Regions from separate parts of the Homo sapiens genome. Here region 2 is reported to be linked to region 1. The links are microRNA targets in miRTarBase. Many come from high-throughput screens and were not tested one by one. Region 1 holds a microRNA gene; the other region holds the end of a gene's coding sequence.

The links. The annotated mature microRNA hsa-miR-3074-5p reads GUUCCUGCUGAACUGAGCCAG and lies in region 1 at 2,288-2,308, shown strand. An mRNA with a match to its seed (bases 2 to 7 or 8) in the 3' UTR can be bound and repressed. Matches are read on the target gene's strand: a 7mer-m8 pairs with bases 2 to 8, a 7mer-A1 pairs with bases 2 to 7 and ends in A, and an 8mer does both.
Region 2: miRTarBase lists CYB5R4 as a target of hsa-miR-3074-5p. Seed matches in the 3' UTR shown: 7mer-A1 at 853-859 and 7mer-m8 at 1,355-1,361.

What each region holds. Positions count from the first base shown.
Region 1 is chr9:95,084,221-95,088,370 of GRCh38, reverse strand. It overlaps MIR3074 (microRNA 3074), which reads left to right and starts at 2,277; the gene lies at 2,277-2,357. AOPEP (aminopeptidase O (putative)) reads right to left here. Exons shown (of 17, transcript NM_001193329.3): 17 at 1,212-1,689. MIR23B (microRNA 23b) reads right to left here and starts at 3,163; the gene lies at 3,067-3,163. MIR27B (microRNA 27b) reads right to left here and starts at 2,926; the gene lies at 2,830-2,926. It also overlaps MIR24-1.
Region 2 is chr6:83,959,438-83,963,437 of GRCh38, forward strand. CYB5R4 (cytochrome b5 reductase 4) reads left to right here. Exons shown (of 16, transcript NM_016230.4): 16 at 387-4,000. The coding sequence ends at 441. It overlaps RIPPLY2-CYB5R4 (RIPPLY2-CYB5R4 readthrough), which reads left to right. Exons shown (of 18, transcript NR_174604.1): 18 at 387-4,000. Among named protein-coding and RNA genes, the nearest start is that of LINC02857, 59 kb to the right of the region's middle.

The DNA of each region.
Region 1 (4,150 bases):
GGGCATGGTGGCGGGAGCCTGTAATCCCAGCTACTCGGGAGGCTGGGGCAGGAGAATCGCTTGAACCCGGGAGGCGGAGGTTGCAGTGTACAGAGATCGTGCCATTGCATTCCAGCCTGCGCAACAAGAGTGAAACTGTCAAAAAAAAGAAAGGAAGGAAAAAAAAAAGGCAGCAGCACACAGAGAGAAAGCATCGTTCATTCTAAATCTCCACAGGAAGCCGCGGTCGTGTATTTATTCAAACATAACAGTCAAGTTCTGAGCCATCCTCCACGATGGCACAGCCAGCTATACAGTCCCACGCAAAGGCATGTGACAGCAGAGAGCAAATCCTAAGAACGTTCTGGAATCAGTCACTGGGACAAGAAAAGAGAGTTCTGGAGACCAAGGCCTCCCAGTCCAGAGCTTCTAATGAGATCCATGGTAGAGCCCCACTTCACCCCAAACAGGCCAGAATTTGTGCTGCCCCCTGGAGCCAGGCAGAGGAGACTGTGGGTGTGTTCAGGTGCACTCATGCTCAGCCCAACTTGGCACAGGGCCCATGGCTGCACCCGTTCCTACAGCCTTCTCCAGGCATTTTCAAACATTCTGCCCCATGGACAGTGCCAAGGAAGCTCAGTGCCCAGCTTCTGTCTATACCCTAAACCTTGTGGAGAAAGAAAAATCATACCACCAGACTCCCACGATGCCTGAATATGCCCAGGCTCTCCATTTTATCGGAAGAGGGTGCCCCACGCGCAGCCAAATTACTTTTGTTTTCAGGCTTCTAAGAGAACTAACACTACCTTGAAAACAACAAAGAAACTAGTGAGGTGGGGGGGGAACACCAGAATGTGGAGAATACCTTTTTCTTGTACGTGCTTTTTTTTTTTTTTTTTTTTTTTTTTTGAGATGGAGTCTTGCTCTGTCGCCCAGGCTGGAGTGCAGTGGCGCAATCTCGGCTCACTGCAACTGCCACCTCCTGGGTTCAAGCGATTCTCCTGCCTCAGTCTCCCGAGTAGCTGGGATTACAGGTGCCCACCACCACGCCCGCCTAATTTTTTGTATTTTAGTAGAGACAGGGTTTCACCATGTTAGCCAGGATGGTCTCGATCTCCTGACCTCGTGATCCACCCACCTCGGCCTCCCAAAGTGCTGGGATTATAGGCATGAGCCACCGCACCTGGCCTTTATTATTTTTAAACAGTATGAAATTTAGAAGCAAACACGTATACAAAAAAAAAATCCATTACATTTATTAATAATATATCTTAGATTCTCATCCTGTTCTTTTAAATGGCGCCCACTGGTCTCATACAGAGGAGCTGTGTGACTTTCTGGAATTATAGAAATATCCGCATCCAGCCATGTGCTGAGCAGACCAATGTAAAATGTTCAGCAGGTTTTCCAATGTCTCTTGGATATATTTAATCATCTCTGCAGAAGAACTCAAAATCTCAGAGCAGCTCCACTCCAGATCCAGGGCAGGAGGCAGCCTCCAGGGAGGGAGGCTGCGTTTACGAGAATCTGCCTTTTGTGTGTGCCTGGCTGGGACCAGCCTCTGGGAAAGAGAAGCACCAAGATGTGAACAGGGCTGTGGGCCGATGGCTTTAGCAGCCACATAATCCCTCCTTTGATGTCCAGGGTCAGTTCGAGCCTGGTCCCCCAGGCTAGGAGGAGACGAATGAAAGAATCTTGCTGTGGTCTTTCCTGCAAAGGAAACAGCAGTAACATTGATTACCCAGTCACCGGGAGGAATTCTTGTGAGCGCGCACCTCTGTGTGCCTTTGCTCTCCACTTTCAAGAGAGGACTTTAATCACAGGACAAGGAGAAGACCCAGGCCCATTTCAGTCTCCGGGACGGGTCACAGCGAGCCGTGTGACGCTGGCCTGCTCACACGTGGCCATGACACCAGCAGGCTGTACTCAGGCTTTGCGTACACAATAGCTGCTAGGAGTACCCATTTCAGACACGCACCCACTCTAACTGTTCTCAGAAAGTCTCAGCTCACCTCGCCGTGGGAGAGCTGGGCCCTGCCTCCCTTACACATGGGGGCAAACGGCCCCCTGCTGGCACTGTGTCCTGCCTTCAGGCCTGGGAGCTCTTAACTTTCTGCCAACAGGGTTTTCCAAGTCTACAAACCCCCACGCCGCAGGAGCACATGCAGATGACTGGCACCGTGCTGCCGCCGGGCCGGGGTGGACGCAGGGTGGACGCGGGCCTGTCTGCCGCGAGTGGGAGCCCCAGCTCTCCTGAGCCTCGGGCACTTACAGACACGAAGGCTTTTTGCTCAAGGGCTCGACTCCTGTTCCTGCTGAACTGAGCCAGTGTGTAAAATGAGAACTGATATCAGCTCAGTAGGCACCGGAGGGCGGGTCCAATCGACAGCCCGGAGAAGCAGCGCCTCAGCTGGGAGCTCCGTGGGCACCGTCTGCTGGCGCAGGAGACGCGAAGGCCTGGACTGCAAATACAAGAGAGAGTTCACCGCGCCCAGAACAACAGGAGCTCCTCCGAAAGCCCCGCCCCGCCCCGCTCACAGCCATGAGCTACCACATGATTTCACACGACTTAGGTGATGCATTTGGTTTTAGTTTTTTGTAAGAAGAATTTTTGCAACTTTCAATACATTTGACCTTTCAGACAGATGTCCGATTAGTGCATGTTTCTGTGGACAGACTTAAGGACTCAGTACATGGCTAGCATTCCCAGCAGGAGACAGTGCATCCTTGGGGTCAAGTGGTCTCTCATCCTCCAGGATCGCGCTCCGCACCCAAGCTGACTGTGCAGCAGCGGCCGGCCCGTCAGCAACGGCCTCTGCCCCAGCGGCTCCAACTTAACTGTCCCCATCTCACCTTCTCTTCAGGTGCAGAACTTAGCCACTGTGAACAAAGCGGAAACCAATCACTGTTCACCAATCAGCTAAGCTCTGCACCTTGTTAGAGAGGTCATCGCTGGGCATAAATAAAGGGACGGTGACCGGTGAGCATCTTCCTCAGCTGGTGGCTTCTTTTGTTTCCAAAGAAGAGCTACGAGATGCACCTGTTCTCCAATCTGCAGTGAGCGCGACCACGGTTTCTGGAGGAGCAGCCAAGGTCGTGGTTGCGTGGTAATCCCTGGCAATGTGATTTTAATCTTAAGTCACAAATCAGCATGCCAGGAACCCAAGCAGCCAGAGCACCTGAGAGCAGCGCCACCCCGTGCTGTCTGCACACACTGGGCTTCCGCGGAAGGACGCCGGCGACACTGCCGCCTTCACGCCTGTTATGCTAGCAAACAGGTGGAGTTTCTGTTTGTTGTTCGTTTAGTTGGCATCCTAGAGGTATAATTTCTTGAATCAAAGGGACTCCAGAGATGACCATAAAAATGCCAGTGCAGCTTTGGAACTGAAGAAAAATGCAGGGACCGGCCATGCGACACACACAATTGCTAAAGGCAGCTGTCCTTGCTATTAGTTTACTGCCTCTAACCCTTGGGGACAAGATCCCTTCTCTCCAGGCAGATTCTAGCTGCCCTGGGAAGGCTTTGGGGACTCTCAAGTCAGGAGGTCCCCCTGCTGGAAGGGGCCCTGGGACAATCCCGGCCACTGTTCCTCACGGGGACTGGTTGGGGGGCAGGCTTGCAACCCCTGGATGCATCTGGAGGGGTGGGGACAGGATCGAAGATGCTGGGGAGGGGGAAAAGGGAGACTTGTGACCAAGATGACTCCTTTGCCTGCCTGGGCAAAAATTCCCCATAAAGAGTGGCGAGGGGTGTGCCCTGTGGTGCTGCTCCAAAACCTGCACCAAAGGGAATGATGAAAGGACTAGCTGGCCTTGTAGTTTCACACACTTTAACACGTACGCCACGAAATAACAAAACGAAAGAGAAACACCATTTACACTGATTACTATTATGAGGCCGGCAGTGAGGTAAGTGCACAGTCTGTGTGCCGCCAGCCCGTCCTGGAGGGGAGCCGCGTCAAGTCTGCAGCAGGCGTTTCGCTACGAGACGCTCAGTCCCGTTTCCCTTTCCTGGCACACATGGTTCCTGACTCTTCTGGAAGAATATGATCATGCTTCTGAAAAACTTTTTATTTCTTTTCATTATTAGAGTTCTTTCAGATAAATAAGCTACTTAAACACGTTACACAGAAATGGTTTTCATAAGCACAAAACATTAGAAGAAAACTCA
Region 2 (4,000 bases), not on the chromosome of region 1:
AACAAATAAAAATCTGATTTTTGTCAACAAATAAATTGCAGGATGGAGTGGGGGTCTGGGGGATCTTACAGATCAAAGGATGCCTAAAAGACTTATCAGCCAATCATAATGAGTAAATTTTAATTGGCTATTGATTGAAACTATTTTTTAAAATTATGACATTTATGAGCTAGTTGAAAATTTGAGCACTGCTTAGATATTTCATGATATTTAGGAGTTACTAATCACTAATTTTTTAAGAGGTGATAGTGTTTTTTTATTTAAAAAAAACTACATAGTGAATGGGGAAAATGAAAAAGTATCATGATTATGGTGGTAAACTGCTCTTATTTCTTCATTTTAAAGCATTTTCCCTAAGAAACATGTGCTTTTTATTTGTTTTTCAGGTTGCTGCATGATCTCAACTTTTCCAAAAATGAGATCCATAGTTTTACAGCATAATGAAGAGCTGTCATTGTCCTTTATTCAACTAGTTTATCTAAATTTGTGATTGCTTAGGGTTTTTTAAGAGAACATTTTTGTACATAACAAAAGGTTAACTAGAATCCAGCCTTCAGTTTCTTAAATGAAATCAAATGTTCCTTCAGTACAGGTAACTTCTTGGCTTTCTTTTGTACCACAACTTATTTTACTACTGATATTTGACCTGGAAAGTTAATCATGGCAACAAATACATACAGGATTCTTTGTTATGAATCACAAATTTCCTTGCCATTTAAATTATATCACTGTTCTACAATAAGCACTTGTGTTTTATGACATGATAAAGTAAATGATCACTTCGATCATGTTTCTATGCTGTAAAATGTCTTATTAGCAATACAGATTAAATTTTACCTTGCACTGTTAACTCAGGAAATGATCATTTATGTCCTTGTTATTAATGTTAAAACATAGAATGTTATAACTTATTAAGTGATCCAAACATTTTTTTGTGTGTGTATGGCATTGATGCAGAATAGAATAAAATTATACTTAAGTTCTTTTTAATCCTTGTGGTAGAAATGTGGTTGAATGCAACAATATTGGGCCAGCGTCTCAAGGGGAATTTTAAAAGGCAGCAATAAAATATATTAGAGACATGACACACATGCGCCTTTGGACTAGGTGTGTTAACAGAGCTTGAGAGAGGGAACCTTGACAGCTATTTTTACTCTTAGCCAAAAACAAAGACATTAGGAAAGAGAGTGAAAGTATAGTGTCTAGTTCCACAGCATAAAGTTATTATTTGGTGCTTTGGAATGGGTTGAATTTTAATTCTTTAGTCCATCTAAATCAGCTGGAAAAATGAGGAACATTCTGCCTTGAATGGTTCTTCCCCTGGTTGGCTGCTTTCTCCACAACTGGTGGTTCAGCAGGAAGCCCTCTTAGGTTCTTGCATGTGGGCAACTTATTTTCTCTTCCTGCTGCTTTGTGCAACTGTCAAATACTTTCACAGATTCAGATCAGCAAAGGGTATCAAGGATAGTCATTGTGAGCTTTTCGTGAGGAAACTGTTGAATGCATAGGTAGCTACTGTATAAGCTAACTAGGATTTTTCAGTCTTAGTACAGCTGCAATGTTTTCACAGAAATAGGGGATTGAAAGAGTCTCCAATTTCTCTGTAAATGATTTTGTAAACAGCTAAATCTTTGCTGAATGAATAATATACTCAAGAGGAACACAATATTAATATTCCCCAAATTACAGACGCCCAGCTTGTGAAGCTTCCTATGTGCAAATGGCTGGTTGAACACTATCACTTTTTCCTGTGCCTCTGTCTTCTGTAGCCAATTCCACCATCATCATTATTCACAAAGACAGGAATCTAGCTGTCCTGGACTGGTACTGTTCCCTGGTAGGTAACAAGAACTTTTTCTAGCTTCATGCCTTCCCCCTACTTATTTTTTTCCATCTAAGGGTGAGGTGATTTGGCTCTGTGTCCTCACCCAAATCTCCTCTCAAATTGTAATTCCCACATGTCGAGGGAGGGTCTTGGTGGGAGGTGATTGGATCATGGGAGTGATTGCCCCCATGCTGTTCTCATGATGGTAAGTGAGTTCTCATGAGATCTGATGGTTTAAAAGTGTGGCACTTCCTCCCCACCTCCTGCTGTATTATGAAGAAGGTCCTTGCTTCTTCTTTGCTTTCTACCATAATTGTACATTTCCTGAGGCCTCCCCAGCCATGCAGAACTGTGAGTCAATTAAACCTCTTTTCTTCATAAATTACCCAGTCTCAGGTAGTTCTTTATAGCAGTGTGAAAATAGACTAATATAAAAAGAGACTATTTACCACTTTTTTTTAGTTCATTTGCGATGTATCAAATCTAACTTAGCCAACATCTTTCTCATCTTTTCTAAGCCTCTTCTTTTTTCTCTCTCCTTTCCCAAGCAACAGAATCTCCTATTAGTCGCTATATGTAATGCTTCCTCATTCCTCCTTTTATGTTTTATATTTTTGTTTATATTTTATTTATATTTTGTTTATATTTTGTTATATTTTATTATATTTTGTTATATTTATATTTTGTTTATATTTTAAAACAAATCCATAAGTGTCTCCTGGGTAATCTCCACTGACATGATTTTATCAACTTACATGTTAATTCCCAAATGGGAGTGACTAATTTGAGAATCAGCTGAGCTTCAGTTTTCAATATCCATTTACTTCCTGCATACCACCCCACCATCCACCTAGTAAGCCATTCTAGAACTATTAGGAATCAACATCAATGTCCCCTTCTCCAGTCTGACTCTTCCATACCAGCTAACCCTGTCCTATCATCCCTCAGCTGGATTAGTACAGTAGCTTGATAATTCATCTTCATGCTGCAGTCCTGATCTCCTAAAATTCATTCTCCATTCCAGGGTATTCTAGAAGGACTTGGAGGAAAAAATCCCCTAAGTAGAGCCTCAGTCTTCCAATGAATGCAACCAAATACTGAGGAGCACAGATAGGAGTATAGTTTATCACTGTTATTCTCAAGCAAATAACTCAAAGACTCCTACATCACATATTTGCAGTGAAGAAGAATTACGCTCAAAGTCACATTTGCTTGCAAATTCTGCTTTTTTTAAAAAAAAGTTTATTAATTTTCTATTGCTGCTAGATCAAATTACTACAAACTTAGTAGCTTAAAACAACACCCATTTATTATCTCACAGTTCCATGGCACAGAAATCTAGGCACAATATGGCTCAACTGGGTCCTCTGCTTAAAGCCTCACAAGGCTGTAATCAGATTGTCAGCTGAGCTGGGCTCTTAGCTAGAGGCTGTAAGGGGAAGTCCCTAGATAAGAGTTCTTTCAGCCTCATTAGGTAGATTTCAGTTCCTTGCAGTTGTAGGACTGAGTTCCCCATTTCCTTGCTAGCTGTTAGCTGTGGGCTAGTCTTTGTTTCTAGAATTTGCCCACATTCCTTCTCATACTTTCTGTGTGGCCCTCTTCAGCATTAGTGGATGAATCTCATGCTTTCAGTCTCTCTGAATTCCCTTGTGGGCTTCTTCAGCATTGGTAGATGAATCTTATGCTTTCAATCTCTCTGAATTCCCTTTCTGCCATATCTTTCTTGCCCTAGCAAGAGTTCACTGCTTTTAAGATCTCATGTGGTTAGATTGGACCTATCCAGATATCCAGGGTAATCTTCCTATTTTAAAAATCTATAATTTTAATTATAGCTGTAAAGTCCCTTTTCCTATATAATATATTCAAAGGTTGCAGGCATTTGGGTGTTGACATCTTTGATGGGCACATTGTGTCTACCACAGGCTATAGAAAGAACAGAGAAATTTGTCCAAGATAAGATGATTAGGTTTTGTCTAGATAGGGGCCCTTGCTATGGGCCCTCAGTTTTTACCTTAATGTAACAGAACATGAGAGGAGCTTTGACACCCACCCCAAAAGAGTCAACTTCATTATGCTGGCAAAGGCATGGGTACAACCTGCTCTGTGATCTACCTTCTGAACCACACAAGCTTGTCCTGAACGAGGTTGGGGCTGAGTCTGTTGATAACAGACCCC